Regions from separate parts of the Homo sapiens genome. Here region 2 is linked to region 1. A link means that fine-mapping ties the variant in region 1 to the expression of a gene that starts in the linked region. Tissue or cell type: whole blood. Region 1 holds a variant in brackets; the other region holds the start of a gene. All regions are shown on one strand. Distances are between the middles of the regions.

Region 1 (8,103 bases):
CACCCCGTAACTCTTTTTGCCACTCCTTGAAATTCCCACCATTCTTGAATCCCCTGACGCTGGACTCCAGCCTGAGGTTCCACTGGGGAACAGAAACTGGCCCCCTGCCAGCGGGGAGCATGGACTCTGGGCCCTGGGCTCTGTAACTAGCAGCTGGCAGCATGAATGGGAACGGAGTGAGCAGGGTGCACGGGAACGGCCTGCATGAGGCCAGCGAGTTTTACTATGAGGCTGTGGAAGGGGCCCACAACCCCGGGGGCCTCCTGCTTTCACCAGCTGCTTTCATCAACCCTGCTCAGTATGCCAGCGTGCTGGAAGGACGCTTCAAACAGCTGCAAGGTGAGGCCCGGGGGCCCCCTGTGGGGACGACTGTGCCTGGGCGAGAGGGACCTGGGTGTGGGGAGAGTGGCCGGAGCTGAGGACCTGGCACAGGACACAGTGTGACTCCAGTGTTTGTGTTGGGAGACAACGTGATGCAGCTTAGAGGGGATAATTACAAGAGGCCGGAAAATACACAGATGTCAACGGAATGGGGAAAGGCTTGGACCTGCTGGCAGGGACCGTGTATGATGGCATGGGTGGGTGTGACTGCCGGGCCTTGGGGTGCTGCATGGAGCAAAGGCAACTAGCCATGGAGGGCGTGGGGGTGCCAGCACCTGGGGAGGCGCCAGCAGTGCCTCTGAGGTGGATCCGGATCTGGCGGTGGAGCGCTGGCCAGGACAGTTAGGGGAGGCGGAGGGGTGAGCCAGGCCCAGGGACCTGGAGATTGTGTTTTCCAGGCCTCTGAGCGTGTGTCTGAATGTGTACACGGGGGCAGTGTGTGTGGAAGCAAAGGGAGTGTCTCGAAGGAGAGGATCTGTGCAAACAGGCCCAGGTAGATGTCTGCGCAGGTGTGTGTTCACTCTGGCACAAGTGCTTAGGTGTGTTTTTGGGAATCACTGTTGTGTGTGTGTGTGTAAGGATCTAGGGATGCTGTGGGCGTCTTGTGACGTGACACTTGGTTTCTGGTGCTTGGCTTTGCCCATTTTCCTCCTAGTTGCCACTAATTCTGTGTCTTCTGACTGTGTGCCAAAATGGCCTCACCCCAGGGTGCCCAGCAGTAGGGCAGTGCCCCTGGATCCAGCAATGGCCTGTGACCCACGCTCCTCCTGGCTCAGATGGGGCCTGTAGACCTGCCGGGAGGCCCCAAGGCACCTTGGTTTCATGGGTGCTGGGGAGCATGGGGCCGTCCCATGTTATTAGGACCCCAGGTTTGGTGCCAGTATAGTGGCTGGAGGTGAAAGACACGGAGCGACGTGGGTGTGTTGCTGTGTCTTATGGGTGAGGTGCTTAGGAATGTGAGATTAAGGGATGAGTCTTTCCGGTTTCTGAGATGCTGGTGCTGAGACGGAAGCAAAAGTGACTCTTCAGACCCCAGCCACTTGGGTTGGGTCCTTGCACAGGGCTCTCTGTGGGAAAGTGGCAGAAATCCTCATCACCAGAGCAGTTTCTGATGCTTTCACTTTGTCACTTAGAACGTTCTTAATTTTTATTTTCCTACGGAACCTAGTATTTACTTCCCCTCTTCAGTAGCTCCCCTCCCCTGTGGGCTGGGCAGCAGGGCATTGCCTAACTTTTTTTTGAGATTGGTACCTAACTCTGCCTGGCTTTTTTTCCCCCATGTTTCCTGGCCTCACTGTTTTCCCAGTTCCCAACTCTCAACATCTTGTTCTTCTAAGCAATGGGGTGTTTATGTCCTGGAACTGGATCCCCTTGCAGCCAGCTGAATGTACTGTCCCCAACCCCCAGAAGCAGAGGAGCCTGCCTTTTCTTTAAGTTATCCAAGGACAGTAAGCTGACTCAGGAGGCCTGCAGCCTCTATACCATCAAGTCCTAATGACCGCTTGGAAGAGCCGCTGCAATAATTTTAGCCCACACCTTCTCCTTTGTCTGCAACCAAAAGAGAACAGCCATACCTCCCACCGGCCTGGGCAGCTCTTGCTCTCCTTCGGGCCAGATCACACCACTTTATAACAGCAGCTCACCAAGGAGCCATTTTGTGCCAGGCACCAACTAGTTGTTTTATATACCTTATCTCATTTAATCAACACAATGACCTGTTGAAGTAGAAAGTGATGTTCCCATTTTACAGATGAGACATTGGGGCTCTGATGAATGAAGTCACTTGACCAGCATTCCACTGCTTCCACGACTGCCCCATCCCAGCCCCTCCCTGCATGTCCCATGGTTTCTGAGGATGAAAGGTCTTCATCCTTTCTTCTCAAAGCCTATTTTCTTTTCTTTTCTTTTCTTTTTTTTTTTTGAGACGGAGTCTTGCTCTGTCGCCCAGGCTGGAGTGCAGTGGCACAATCTCGGCTCCCTGCAAGCTCCCCCTCCCAGGTTCACGTCAGTCTGCCTCAGCCTCCCGAGTAGCTGGGACTACAGGCGCCCGCCACTATGCCCGGCTAATTTTTTGTAATTTTAGTAGAGACGGGGTTTCACCGTGTTAGCCAGGATGGTCTCGATCTCCTGACCTTGTGATCCGCCCGCCTTGGCTTCCCAAAGTGCTGGGATTACAGGCATGAGCCACCACACCCAACCTTCGCCTATTTTCTGTCTTTCATCTTTCTTCTTTACCTTGCTTATGAGCTCATTGCAAGTTACGGGCTTTCCTCCCGGTCATCTTCCTTCCCTTCCTCCTCCTTAGAGGACCCCGCTTCCCATCTCTCAGGCTTCTCCATCCCCCACCCCTGCCAACTGGTGTTTAGAAGCAGGCATACTGAACTCGAGGGACAGAAATAAACCCATGTTGCCACCACAGATGAACGAGAAGCTGTGCAGAAGAAAACCTTCACCAAGTGGGTAAACTCGCACCTGGCCCGGGTCACGTGCCGGGTGGGGGACCTGTACAGCGACCTCCGGGACGGACGCAACCTGCTGAGGCTCCTCGAGGTGCTCTCGGGAGAGATACTGGTGAGCTGTGGTCATGAAGGGAAGTGGGGGGGCCTTAGAAAAGTGTCCAAGGGGACCAGCTGGAAGAACAGCCCTCAGAGAGAGTGACGGCACAGGGCGGGAAGCAGTGGCTCCCTCTGCTCAGAGGATGGGTTCATTTCAAGTGCCTTTGCCACTTAGATTACATAGGAGCATTGCTTCATGGAGACAGGAACAGTGGCCCCATTGAAAACATTTCTTTTCCCACCTACTCTGGGTGCAATTAATTCCCTTGGGAATCTTAATCTGCCCAAGCCTCATCTGTAAGCTCAGCTTTGGCTCCAGCCCTGGGGCTGTGCCTGTCTGTGTTCCTGAGGTAGGTCATGGGGAAGGTGTGCAAAGCTGGGCCCTGTGAAGGCTGGGGAAGAAGGTGGAAGCCCACAGTCCCGTGCCATTTTGCCCCCGTCCCTCCACAGCCAAAGCCTACAAAGGGCCGCATGCGGATCCACTGCCTGGAGAACGTGGACAAGGCACTGCAGTTCCTCAAGGAGCAGAAAGTGCACTTGGAAAACATGGGCTCCCATGACATTGTGGACGGAAACCACCGACTGACCCTTGGGCTGGTCTGGACCATCATCCTTCGATTCCAGGTACCCCAGCACACTGTCACACAGGGTGTGGTTCCTGCCCTGGCTCTGCACCGCAAGCCGTTCCTGCTGGCCCATGACACAACAAACACAAAGATGGAGGATCTAGAACCTTATGTAGCAGCTGCCATGGCGGCGCTATCCAAGCACCAGATCAGTGGACTCCCCTCTTTCAGCAGGGTAGAAACCAGCTTGGGTGAATGTCACACCCCTGTGGCAAATTCCCTGTGTTCTGGTCTGTGTGTTGGTCGTGTGCAATGGGACCAGGACCACAGGTTGGTCCACAGGAGACTGGAAGTTTTACCAACTGGTCCTTCACCACAGGGATTTGGGAACTTCTAGAGGGTCTGGTCACTGGCACCAATTCCCTGCCATAAACTCTGCCTGCCTCCCCCAATGGAACAGTCACCCTCCTCCTCCTCATGCCCCAGTGTCCTCATGCCATCACAGCGTTCCTGATCACCCCCTTCCTTCCCGGGTTCTGTCGGCTTCACCTTGGAGAGCCAGCTTTTAGAGACCTTGGAGAGCCAGCTCTCAGAAAATGTTCACTCTTCTGCCTGCAGTTCCCCACCTGGAGGGACCAGCACCCTCCACTCAGACACACCCATTCTTCAGCATCCTACCCTAATCTGCTGCCTCAAATCCCTTGCACCCAGTGTTTTGTGGTCCCTGGCCTAGGTTGAAAGGACCTCAGGCTATGCCTGTCCACCCCATTACCACAGTCTAAAGAGCAGTTTCCTGCCATTTATCTGAGCATCTCTGATAACACCAGGAGTTCCTGTCCAGGGACTGAGGGCCCTGCTTGCTTCCTTCCTAGATCCAAGACATCAGTGTGGAGACAGAAGACAACAAGGAGAAGAAGTCAGCCAAGGATGCCCTGCTTCTGTGGTGCCAGATGAAGACTGCAGGGTGAGGACACCCTGGGCGTGTGGCACTGGAGGGTCAGTGACCCCCAGGCTGTGCTGGGCTCCAGGAACCATGAGCTGGTGACTGCCCTGGAGTCATAGAACAGAGCTCAGCCCTACTCACCATTTTCTGAATCTCTGTTTATAGTTATCCCAACGTCAATGTACACAACTTCACCACCAGCTGGAGAGATGGACTAGCTTTCAACGCCATCGTGCATAAACACCGGTGAGAAGATGGGGTTAGCAAACGCAGCAGAGCTGCTGGGTCGGCTAATGACCTGGGGTGCACATGTGGAGACAGAGATGAGATGAGCTGCACAGCAGTCAGACGGAAGGAATAGCACTCGGAGCAGAACCAGAACATGGGGGTGCAGGGCTGCGCAGAGCACTTGTGATGGGAAGCAGGGGAGGTGGTGTGGGGAGGGGCTGTGAGCAGCAGTGTGGGTTTGGGATGCCTACTTCTGGACAAAATTGGGTCGGTGACTTAGGGATAAAGATTGGTGTGGGTTTCCTCTTCCTCTTC[G/A]AGATCTCACATGTTTCTGATCCCTTCTGTCTTGCCTCCCCACCCAGGCCAGACCTGCTGGATTTTGAGTCTCTGAAGAAGTGTAATGCACACTATAATCTGCAGAATGCATTCAATCTGGCTGAAAAGGAACTGGGACTTACCAAGCTGCTGGATCCCGAAGGTGGGGCCAGAGCTATGTGAAAAAGAGGTGGTAGGGTAGAGACAGGAGGTGGACCAGTGGTTGCCAGGGGCTGCGGAGGGGGAAGACATGGAGTAACCACCAACTGATACAGGGGCTTCTTTGGTGGGGGAAGAGAATGTTCTGGAATTAGAAAGTGGTGATGGTTACACAACCTTGTAAATATACTGAAAAACACGTGGTTGCTCACACCCAGCACTTTGGGAGGCCAAGGCAGGAGGATCACTTGAGCCTAGGAGTTTGGTACCAGCCTGGGCAACATAGTGAGACCCCATGACTACCCCTCCCCCCCAAAAAAAATATATATCTTTACACTGAAAACCACTGAATTATATACATTGAAAGGTTGAATTTTATGGTGTGACAATCATTTCTCAGGTTTTTTTTTTTTTTAACAAAAGACTGTAGGTAGGAAGAAAGGCAGCCCAGTGACAGAAAGAGCCCTGGACTGTGGGTTGTGTCCCAGGCAGAGCACAGAGGAGCTCTGTGACATACAGCCAGTGGCTAGCCTCTCTGTGGCTCAGTTTCCTCATGTCTTAAAAGAGAGAATTGGTCTCTAAGGGCTCTTCTGAAATTCTAGGATTCTAAATTAAGCTACATGTTGCTGGCCACGGTGGTACCTGCCTATAGTCCTAGCTGCTAGTGAGGCTGAGGCGAGAGGATCACTTGAGCCCAGGAGTTCTAGGCTGCAGTGGGTTATGCTGATTGGATATCTACACTAAATTCAGCACTGGTGACCTCCTGGGAGCAGGGGACCAGCAGGTTACCTAAGGAGGACTGAACCAGTCCAGGTCAGAATGGAGCAGGTCAAAACTCCCACACTGATCAGTAGTGGGATCACACCTGTCAATAGCCACAGTACTCCAGCTTGGGCAACAGCGAGACCCATCTCTATTTTTTTAAAACAAATTTTTAAGAAAAAAAATTAAGCTGCATGACCTTCCACTCTCACCCAGAACTGGCCTGTAGTCAGCTGACCTTGCTGATTGGTTCCTGTGGTTCTGGTCATAATGCCGATGAGATCGATGAGATCAGTAACAGCCACTGGGCTCTTTTTTTTTTTTTTGAGACGGAGTCTCACTCTGTTGCCCAGACTGGAGTGCAATGGCGCGATCTCGGCTCACTGCAACCTCCGCCTCCTGGGTTCAAGCAATTCTCCTGCCTCAGCCTCTTGAGTAGCTGAGATTACAGGCGCATCCCACCACGCCCGGCTAATTTTTGTATTTTTAGTAGAGACAGGGTTTCACCATGTTGGTCAGGCTGGTCTCTAACTCCTGACCTCGTGGTCCGCCCACCTCGGCCTCCCAATGCGCTGTGATAACAGGTGTGAGCCCCCGCGCCTGACTGCGATTAGGCTCTTATTTGATACCTGGTTCTGCACTTGATGTGTTTTAATCTTCACAACACCCCTTTGAAATCAGTACTGTTGTTATCCTCAGTTTATGGAAGAGAAGATGGGGGCCTATAATGGGTAAGCAACTTGCCCAGGTCCTCCGGCAGATGGAGCTGAGATTGGCGTTCAGGCAGCCTGGCTCCAGAGCCTGTTTCCTCCGCTGCCTCTGGGAAAGTGGAGACCAATCTTGGTGCAACCAGAACAGGGAGGAGAGAAAGGCTCGCCTGCTGGAGGTGCTCCTTAAGTTCACTGGGTGGATGTTCACTGGTCTTGGCCATTTTCTCCCTGTTTTCCATTCTACCTGTAGCCCTATCACCTGGGCCTTTTTACTGCAGAATGACAAGTGTCAGCGAGCTAGCAACAGACATAGGCTTCATGCAGTGCTCCTTGGAGAGCCTCTGGGTAGCATGGCTGTAATTCAGAACCTGGAAATAAAGCTAAGCATTCTGTAACTTTCCGAGATGACTTCAGTGGCTCCTGCCTGCCCATGTATTTCCAGAAATAGGCAAGAGGCTTCTGGTCTCATAGTCTTACCTTTAGGATAAAATCTGGCCTATTTAAAAGAACCCACAGATTTCAAGTTATGGTCAGCCTCAGTTGTGCGCTGGAAGCCAATTCGGCTTGAAAGACACTCCCCTCCTTGGGCCCACAGCTGAGCTTTAGGATTGAGGTTAGAAACGGCGTGATCACACCTGGAGATGGTGCTGAGAGCTGGCCTCTGTCCCCACTGAGCTGCAGGGATCACAGGGCCCATCGATCTGAGCATCCTAGGTTCAGGAGGCTTAGTTCATACCTTCCGTCCCACTGCCCCTCAATCCATTGACTTCTTAAACATTATTCTAGCCTAAAAGTCCATGATCCATCCCCACATAGCAATGCTGTTTCTTTTCTTGCTTTTCTTCCCCAAACAACTGATTTTGGTCTCCACGGGGAACTCTGGGTAAAAGCTTCCTTGTGCTTCTGGGGTTTGTGCTCTGCTTGGAGGGCCCTTCTTGTTTCCAGGAGAAGGGGAAAAAAAGATGAGCTTTTTGGTGCCCTTTTCATTTGAATGGGTAAGTTGTCATTTTGCTCTAAAAGGAGATGGAGAGATGTCAGCCTTGGAGGACTGGGCAGGCCCAGGGTTTGGGGTAAGTGATGCAAGTTATGGATGAACTTCTGGGAGGCCTGACCCAAATGGTCCTCTCTTGCAGACGTGAATGTGGACCAGCCAGATGAGAAGTCAATCATTACCTATGTGGCTACTTACTACCATTACTTCTCCAAGATGAAGGCCCTGGCCGTGGAAGGCAAGAGAATTGGCAAGGTACTGTCCATGGGCAGTAGGCATAAAGGCCAGAGGAGGCCCGGCTGAGGGGTCTTACTGCCCTAGTGCAAGGGCAGGGTGGAGCTGCAGGACTGGGCCAGGGACCCTGTGGCTGGGACTGTCACGTCCCTGTCTTCTGCCTCCCAGGTGCTGGACCATGCCATGGAGGCAGAGCGCCTGGTGGAGAAATACGAGTCCCTGGCCTCGGAGCTGCTGCAGTGGATCGAGCAAACGATCG
Region 2 (8,103 bases), 30 kb before region 1:
TCCTGGAATAACATGATAAAAGATTCTAATTGAAATTTTTAAATAAGCTACGACATAAACCATGACAAAAGAGATAGAAAATATTTTTTCTTTCTCTACTTACTAGTTGTTACACAATGAAGAGCATTTGCCTGGTGCTTAGAATTTAATCCTTCTATGGAAATCACTAGCTGCCCTTCTAGCAATGCTCCCTTTGATACATCTATGTCACACTTCCAGTGAATTATTAAAAATCTCAAAATCTGAAAAGAGCACAATTCAAAGAAAACATAATCTTCTTTAGAAATCACAGTAATAATACATCTCTATGACCCAGTTAAATTAGTAACTCTAATTTCCCCCCAAAAATTGTATTCTTGCTTCTAAAATGTCAGATTTAGGTTTGTTCAGAGTATTGTGTCTAAACAAAATAAATAGCTAGGAGAGTGACATAAGAAAAGAGTCAGTGAAATTCAACATAATGCCCAGTAAGACAGGAAATTGAGACAATAAATTCCTTTATTCAGAAGATAAATTCATCTGGAAATAATAATTAGGGAAAAATTAAGTGGGAGTTTGTTTTTCTTGTTTCTTTTTTCCTGCCCCAAATAAAAGCCAACATGAAGACTATGAATAAGAGTGGCATCTGGTTATGAATCATCTTGATCTTTCATTAAATCAACACTTTTGAGGGTCAGAATACTATTTAAGAGTGCTAATGCTGCCCTGCGCGGTAGCTTATGCCTGCAATCCCAGCACTTTGGGAGGCCGAGGTGAGAGGATCACTTGAGCTCAACAGTTTGAGATCAGCCTGGACAACATACGCAGACCTTATCTCTACTAACAACAACAAAAATTAGCCCAGCGTGGTGGCGTGTGCCTGTAGTCTCAGCCACTGGGGAGGCTGAGGCAGGATGATCTCTTGAGCCCATAAGATTGAGGCTGAAGTGAGCCCTGATCAGGCCACTGCACTCCACACCTGGATTTGAATCCCTGATGTGCCAAATTCTAGCATGTGACCTTGGGCAAATTACTTAATCTCTCCAAACCACAGACTCCTCATCTATTAAAATGGGGATAAAACTACCACATAGGGCTGCTGCTGAAAGTAAACAAATAAGGTACGTGCAACGCTGAGCGCAGTGGCTCATGCCTGTAATCCCAGCACTTTGGGAGGCCAAGGTGGGAGAATCGCTTGAGCCCTGGAAACATAGTGAGGCCCCATCTCTACTAAAAAAAAAAAAAAATTAAATAAAAATATGTGCAAAATGCTTAACACAGTACTTGGCAAATAGCAAATGCTTAACAGATATTAGCTATTATTTCTAAGTTCTAATGCAGTAAAGACTACACACAATATTTTAAGTTGAACAGGACTCCAAGATGTCTGGGTAAAACATTTAATCGACCGGGTGTGGTAGCTCACACCTGTAATCCCAGCACTTCGGGAGGTTGAGGCGGTGGATCACCTGAGGTCAGGAGTTCAAGATCAGCCTGGCCAATATGGTGAAACCCCATCTCTACTAAAAATACAAAAATTAGCCGGGTGTGGTGGTGTGTGCCTGTAGCCCCAGCTACTTAGGAGGCTGAGGCAGGAGAATTGCTTGAACTCGGGAGGTGGAGGCCACAGTGAGCCAAGATTGGGTCACTGCGCTCCAGCCTGGGCAACAGCAACACTCCGTTTCAAAAAGAAAAAAAAAAACACATTTATTCGAGACAAATTGAAAATAAAATATATTTCATTTATTTTTGGGGGGAGAGAGGGGACAGAGTCTCACTCTGACTCCCAGGCTGGAGTGCAGTGATGGCATCATCATGGTTCACTGCAGCCTCAACCTCCCGGGCTCAGGTGATCCTCCCACCTCAGCCTCCCAGGTAGCTGGAAGTGCAGCCGCCTGCCACCACACCCTGCTAATTTTTTTTTTTTGAGATGGAGTTTTGCTCTTGTAGCCCAGGCTGGAGTGCAATGGTGCGACCTCAGCTCACTGCAACCTCCGCCCCCTGGGTTCAAGCGATTCTCCTGCCTCAGCCCCACAAGTAGCTAGGATTACAGGCATGTGCCACCACACCTGGCTAATTTTGTATTTTTAGTAGTGACGGAGTTTCTCCATTTTGATCAGGCTGGTCTTGAACTCCCGACCTCAGGTGATCCGCCTGCCTCGGCCTCCCAAAGTGCTGGGATTACAGGCGTGAGCCACCGCTAATTTTTGTATTTTTTTCAGAGACGGAGTTTCCTCATGTTAGCCAGGCTGGTCTTGAACTCCTGATCTCAAGTGATCTGCCCGCCTCGGTCTCCCAAAGTGCTGAGAATACAGGCTACCCACCGCGCCCGGCCAACTCCCATTATTATTCATGCAAACAGATTCTCACTTTTACAGGGAGGCAACACAAGGAAAATTATTACCCCCTTTTTAAAGGCAGGGAGATCTGGGAACTAAGATCCTCATTTGTACCAGTTAACAAGAATGGTTTCCAGGTACGTGTAGAGTCTAACTATTCCTTCACACGTCCTCTGTTACGATATTCCCATATCGGGCCGGGCACGGTGGCTCACGCCGGTCCCAGCACTTTGGGAGGCGGAGGCGGGCAGATCACTTGAGGTCAGAAGTTCAAGACCAGCCTGGCCAACATGGTGAAAACCTGTCTCTACTACAAATACAAAAATGAGCCAGGTGTAGCGGCGTGCGCCTGTAATCCCAGCTACTCGGGAGGCTGAGACAGGAGAATCCCTTGAACCCGAGAGGCGGAGACTGCGGTGAGCCGGGATCACGCCACTGCACTCCAGCCTGGGCGAAAGAGCGAGACTCCGTCTCAAAAAACAAACAAACAAACAAACAAACAAACAAACCCTAAAGATATTCTCATGTCGGTATGACAGCGCAGTTGGGAAAAGAACACTGGCCTATGAGTCAGCGCCCTGGGTTCTAGCCTAGGTTCGGTTATTTGTAAAATGGAATCCCGCCGCCTTCTTTGATGACAACAAACAGGCAGGACGCCCGGGGGTACTCTCTCAGGTGCCCTCAGAGCCTGTGCTTCTGTCACCTGCCCAGTACCCCTCACAAACAGCAGCTCAACGTCCCATTGGGCACCGGCCGTGAAAGTGGGTAATGAAATGAGCACACGGGGCGTGGCCGGCGCCAGGCGCTCAGTGCCGTCTTCCAGAGCAGCTCCCCGAGCACAGGTGTGGCCTCTGAACCTCGCCCTTCCACGTCCAGCTGCTTCGAACCCAGAAACCTGCACCTGCACCGGGGCCTAAAAAAACTCTCCCTCGCTCCCAGTCTGCACTGGGTCCCTCCTTGCCTCTGTCCTGGCGCCCCGACTCCCCCCACCCCGCCCCGCAACGCCAGGGCTTGCCCCATTCCTTTCCTTCTTTCCGCGCCCCCTCCCAGCACCCGGTGCATGGAAGGCGCTGGGCTCCGGCAGGCACCTCCGAGGCTGCGTCAGGCTCTGCCCCTGGGTGTCCGCCGGTGCTCGGCAAACGCCGCAGCTTTCTGAGCCGTAGGCTGGAGAGAGGGCGTCGTTCCCCCACAGAGTACCCCGCGAGCGAGAGCCCTCATCTGCTCCTACTTCCTCGCTTCCCCGTGGGAGACGGGCCTCGATTCCCGAACCTTCCTCCTTCACCTTAGGCGACGCCCGACCCCTCTGCCCAAACTTCGCGGTCTCCTCACAAAGCCCGTCTCCTCAGAAAGTGTCCTCCGCTTTCTCTCCCTTCCCAGCATCACCTCGAACACGGCCACGGCCGTCCCCTCCATGCCGCGCAGGGAACAGCGGCAACGCCCAGTCGAAGGGTACCCGCCCGCCGCCGCCGCCGCCGCCGCCGCCCCCTCCTCAGCCCGGGCTTGGAACTCCGCCAGTGCCCACGCCCGAGTCCACGCCCACGCCCGGCAGCGCGAGCCCATCCCTTCCCGCGCGCGCGCCTGCGCCCGCGCACGCCCCGCCCACCTGCCCGCCGCGCCTGCGCACTCGACGCTGCAGGGCCCCGAGACCGCGAACCGCCGCCGGGAGCCACCTAGAGCCTCTGAGCGCCGCGGGTGCCAGTGGGCCCGCAGGTGGGAGGTTCGGGGCGGGGAAGAGCCCGCGAGAGGCGGCCAAGGCTGGAGGTGAGCGGGAATGAGGCCAGGCCACGACTCCTCCCTCCTCTCAAAGATAGTTTCCCACGGTGGCGGCGAGATGCGGCCCTTGGCCCTAATCCGGGCTTTGGCCGCCCTTCGCGCTTTCCAGGACCCTTCCCTCGGCCGGGAGGGGCGACGGTAACGGCGCGGGGCTACCAAGCGGGTTCGTGACCCCTCCAACAGCCTTGTCTGCGGCGGGGGCTGCCCCAGGCCAAGCCCTGGGTCCCAGACTTAGCAAAGAAAAAGACGGCCAATTAAAATTGAATTTCATATAGACAGCGAATTTTTTTTATAACCATACACATATCTCGGCAATTTTTGGGACATATACTAAAAAATTACTAATCTGAAATTAAAAACGACGCCCTGGGCCGGGCGCAGTGGCTCACGCCCGTCATCCCAGCACTTTTGGAGGCCGAAGCGAGTGGATCACCTGAGGTCAGGAGTTCGAGACCAGCCTGGCCAACATGGTGAAACCCCGTCTCTACTGAAAATACAAAAATTAGCCGGGCGTGGTGGCGGGCGCCTGTAATCCCAGCTACTCGGGAGGCTGAGGCAGGATAATTGCTTGAACCTGGGAGGCGGAGGTTGCAGTGAGCCGAGATCGCGTCATTGCACTCCAACCTGGGCAAAAAGAGCGAAACTCTGTCTCAAAAAAAGAAAAAACGACCCCCCGTCTTTTACCTTACAACCAGCCCCAAGCATCTCCCAGCCTAATCCAGGGGGACCAGCTTCCCCCGCAAAGGTGGGACCTGGGAGTCGACCCCTCCCTATCCAGGCCCCTTTCCACGTTTGACTGCACTGAATGTGCCAAGACCAGGAGCTGGCTTTTCTGGGCTCTGGCTGACAGGAGAAGCTCTGGGGTTTTCCAAGTGCATTCCTGGCTGGAATAAGGAGGTCCTGCAGAGTCCCAGCTGCTGCTCTCTGCCAGGTTCCGGGAGGGGCATGGTGACAGGGGCTTAAGCCTATAACTGCTGGTGATCTGACAGCCAAAAGAAAACCCTGATGAGAGATTCCTGCCTGGCAAAGAGTTGCCCAAGGAGAAGGGTGGGACAGGGTGTTGGCTGCTTTCCTTCAGGAAAAATTCTTCCACCCCAGCTCCAAGACGCCAGGATTGGACAGAACAGGCTGGCGAGCTGGCAGAGTGCCTGCCCAGTACACAACCTTGGTGCTACTCCAAAGAACATTGTCTATCGAGACCTGAATCATACCCTTCTCGAGTCTATGCTCAGCGCTCCTCCCCATTCCTCCCCATCTCAGTTGCTCACAGGTAGACCTATTGGAGCAAGGTAGCTTTTATTTCTGGAAAATCCATCGTAACCATCAAACTTGATAAACAGCTGGCATTTGAGGAATCATTGGAGTCTTCCTTTCATTCCCCCCACACCCCCCGCAGAGCTCCCCATCCCCACCCCCAGTCTCTTGTCCTTTTTCAGAAGAGGAGTTGCCAAGGGGAAGGGACCAGTAACATTGAATGACTGCTTGTTGTCGGACCCCACTAGCTCTTTACATAAATGATGTCATCCTCTCAACTATCTTGTAAGAAAATTGTTATCGTCACTATTTTATGGGTGAGAAACCAAGGTATTGAGGATGGTTCTTTAAAATATTTCCCATCGTGGCCGGGCGCAGTGGCTCACGCCTGTAATCCCAACACTTTGGGAGGCCCAGGTGGGTGGATCATTTGAGGTCAGGAGTTCGAGACCAGCCCAGCCAACATGGTGAAACCCCACCTCTACTAAAAATACAAAAATTAGCCAGGCGTGTTGGCATGTGCCTGTAGTCCCAGCTACCTGGGAGGCTGAGGCAGGAGAATTGCTTGAACCCGGGAGGTGGAGGTTGCAGTGAGCTGACATCACACCACTGCACTCTAGCCCGGCTGACAGAGTGAGACTCTGTCTAAAAAAAAAAAAAAATTATCATTGTGAGTGTTGGCCCAGCAGAAAATGCTCCACCTTGAGAATGGCATTGAGAATGAAGATGAGTTGGTTTCCTAGCTTCCAGCCCTTGTCCTTGGAAATGAGCCTCTAGCTTTCAGCCCTTGTCCTTGGAATGAACTTCAGGGATAAAGGTGTAATGGAGCACCCAATACCACCCTAGAGGCAGTGGAGGCCTCTCAAAGGTAGCCAGGGACACAGCTGTCCTCCCTACTGGACATAGGGAGAAGCAAGGAGGGAAGCCTTCGATATGAGGGTTTGCCATCAGGACTTCCGTAGCGTAAACCCACGTATTCAGGCAGCATGCAATATAGGCTTGATATATGGTGAGAATCCACTCTGTGCTAAGTGCTCTTCACTTTTTCTTATTCATCTTAAGCAGTTCTCCCAATTTTGTAATCTTGTAAGAAAGATGTTATCTTTGTTTTAGAAATGATAAAAATGAGAATCCAAGAAGAAGTTGTATGAATAAATCAGGCATGGTGGCTCATGCTTGTAATTCCAGCACTTTGGGAGGCCAAGGCAGGAGGATTGTTTCAGGCCAGGAGTTTGAGACCAACCTGGGCATTATAGTGACAGCCTGTCTCTACAAAAAAATTTAAAAATTAGCCAGGTACAGTGATGCATGCCTACAGTCCTAACTACTTGGGAGGTTGAGGTGGGAGGATCTCGAGCCCCTCGAGTTGGAGGTTGCGGTGAGCTATGATTATGCCACTGCACTCCAGCTTAGTGACAGAGCAAGACCCTGTCTCAAAAAAAAAATTAAAATTTTAAAAACGGTTTTTTGCTCAGACCTCATCCTCAGAACACTAGAATGTTAGAGCCAGAAGGGACTTTGGAAATTATCAGTTATCTATTAAGATGAAGAAATTTGAAGCCCAAAGAAACTAAATGACCTGCCCTTGGTTAAGGTCACCTTAGTTAACTAGGCCAACCAAGGAGGCTTTGAGTATGGCTCTCGATATTTTCAGCCCTGGCCTTCCAGGTCTCATTTATTGGCAGTGTCTGTAGGGAGCCAGTTATTTCCAGTCCTTAGACTGGGTGACATATTGATTCTGCTTCCATTTCTGCACCCACCTCAGAATTTATATTACTGTTTCATGTTGTATTAGTTCATTCTCATGAAGACATACCCGACACTGGGTAATTTATAAAGGAAAGAGTTTTAATTGACTCATTGTTCATCATGGCTAGGGAGGCCTCAGGAAACTTAGAATCATGGCAGAAGGGGAAGTAAACAGATACTTCTTCACATGGCAGCAGGAAGGGGAAGAATGAGTGCCCAGTGAAGGGGGAAGCCCCTTATAAAACCATCAGATCTCTTGAGAACTAATTCACTATCAGAAGAACAGGATGAGGGAAACTGCCCCCATGATTGAATTATCTCCGCCTGGTCCCTCCCATGACACATGGGGATTATGGGAACTACACTTCAAGATGAGATTTGGATGGTCACACAGCCAAACCATATCACATGTCTACTTTGGATATCTTGTTTATTCCAAAAAGAAACCCTCTGTCTGAGACACACTCCCTGCCCCCCTATAAGAAGAGCCCAAGACTGATTCTGACCCAAACTCAAGGGTTTGAGTGGAACCAGAACATCCTAGGGAGTGCTGCCAGATGAACAATGACATTTTAGGGACTGTTGAGCTTTCCTTTTGAATGTGCCCTCTCTGTGTCTCCTAGACACTTCTTAAGGCCCCACCTTGTTTCTTAGGCTCCCCTAGAGCTTTCAAATGCCCTAAAGAGGCTGACCCTAGGAACTTAAGTAGAAAATATCCTTGAGGTCCGCCTTTCCAAGCTGATGCAAAAGGAAGTCCATTTGAAGACTCCCTCCCCTGGGAAAGAACCAAGCAACTATTAAGCTGTTTCCCATCCAGACAGTAGGAAAGGGTTAACTGCTTCTCTCGGGTCCTGAGCAAAGTCTGTCCCATACCAGTTCCCATAACCGGGTTTCCTGAAATGGAGCAGGTCCCAGGTGACTCTCCACTAATCACATCCTTGGAAATGGGGCCATGAGGCTCAGATTAGCTCATCCCTTCACCTTCTTGAGGCCTTCTCCACCTGGAGCA

The links. PIP is the estimated chance that this variant, and not a neighbour inherited with it, causes the effect.
Region 2: it holds the start of TOP6BL, and the variant in region 1 is fine-mapped to the expression of TOP6BL in whole blood (TOPMed, PIP above 0.99).

The regions. Positions count from the first base shown.
Region 1 is chr11:66,710,679-66,718,781 of GRCh38, reverse strand. SPTBN2 (spectrin beta, non-erythrocytic 2) reads left to right here. Exons shown (of 38, transcript NM_006946.4): 4 at 2,801-2,952; 5 at 3,387-3,560; 6 at 4,375-4,466; 7 at 4,611-4,691; 8 at 5,036-5,151; 9 at 7,753-7,865; 10 at 8,013-8,103. It also overlaps the pseudogene RN7SL12P. Among named protein-coding and RNA genes, the nearest start is that of SPTBN2, 14 kb to the left of the region's middle. The variant G/A (reference allele first, on the strand shown) is at 4,989.
Region 2 is chr11:66,740,518-66,748,620 of GRCh38, reverse strand. It overlaps TOP6BL (TOP6B like initiator of meiotic double strand breaks), which reads right to left and starts at 3,852. Exons shown (of 15, transcript NM_001302084.2): 1 at 3,702-3,852. It also overlaps a transcript of SPTBN2 not described here. RefSeq lists enhancers at 2,994-3,083, 3,524-3,633, 4,125-4,625 and silencers at 3,264-3,363, 3,774-4,163.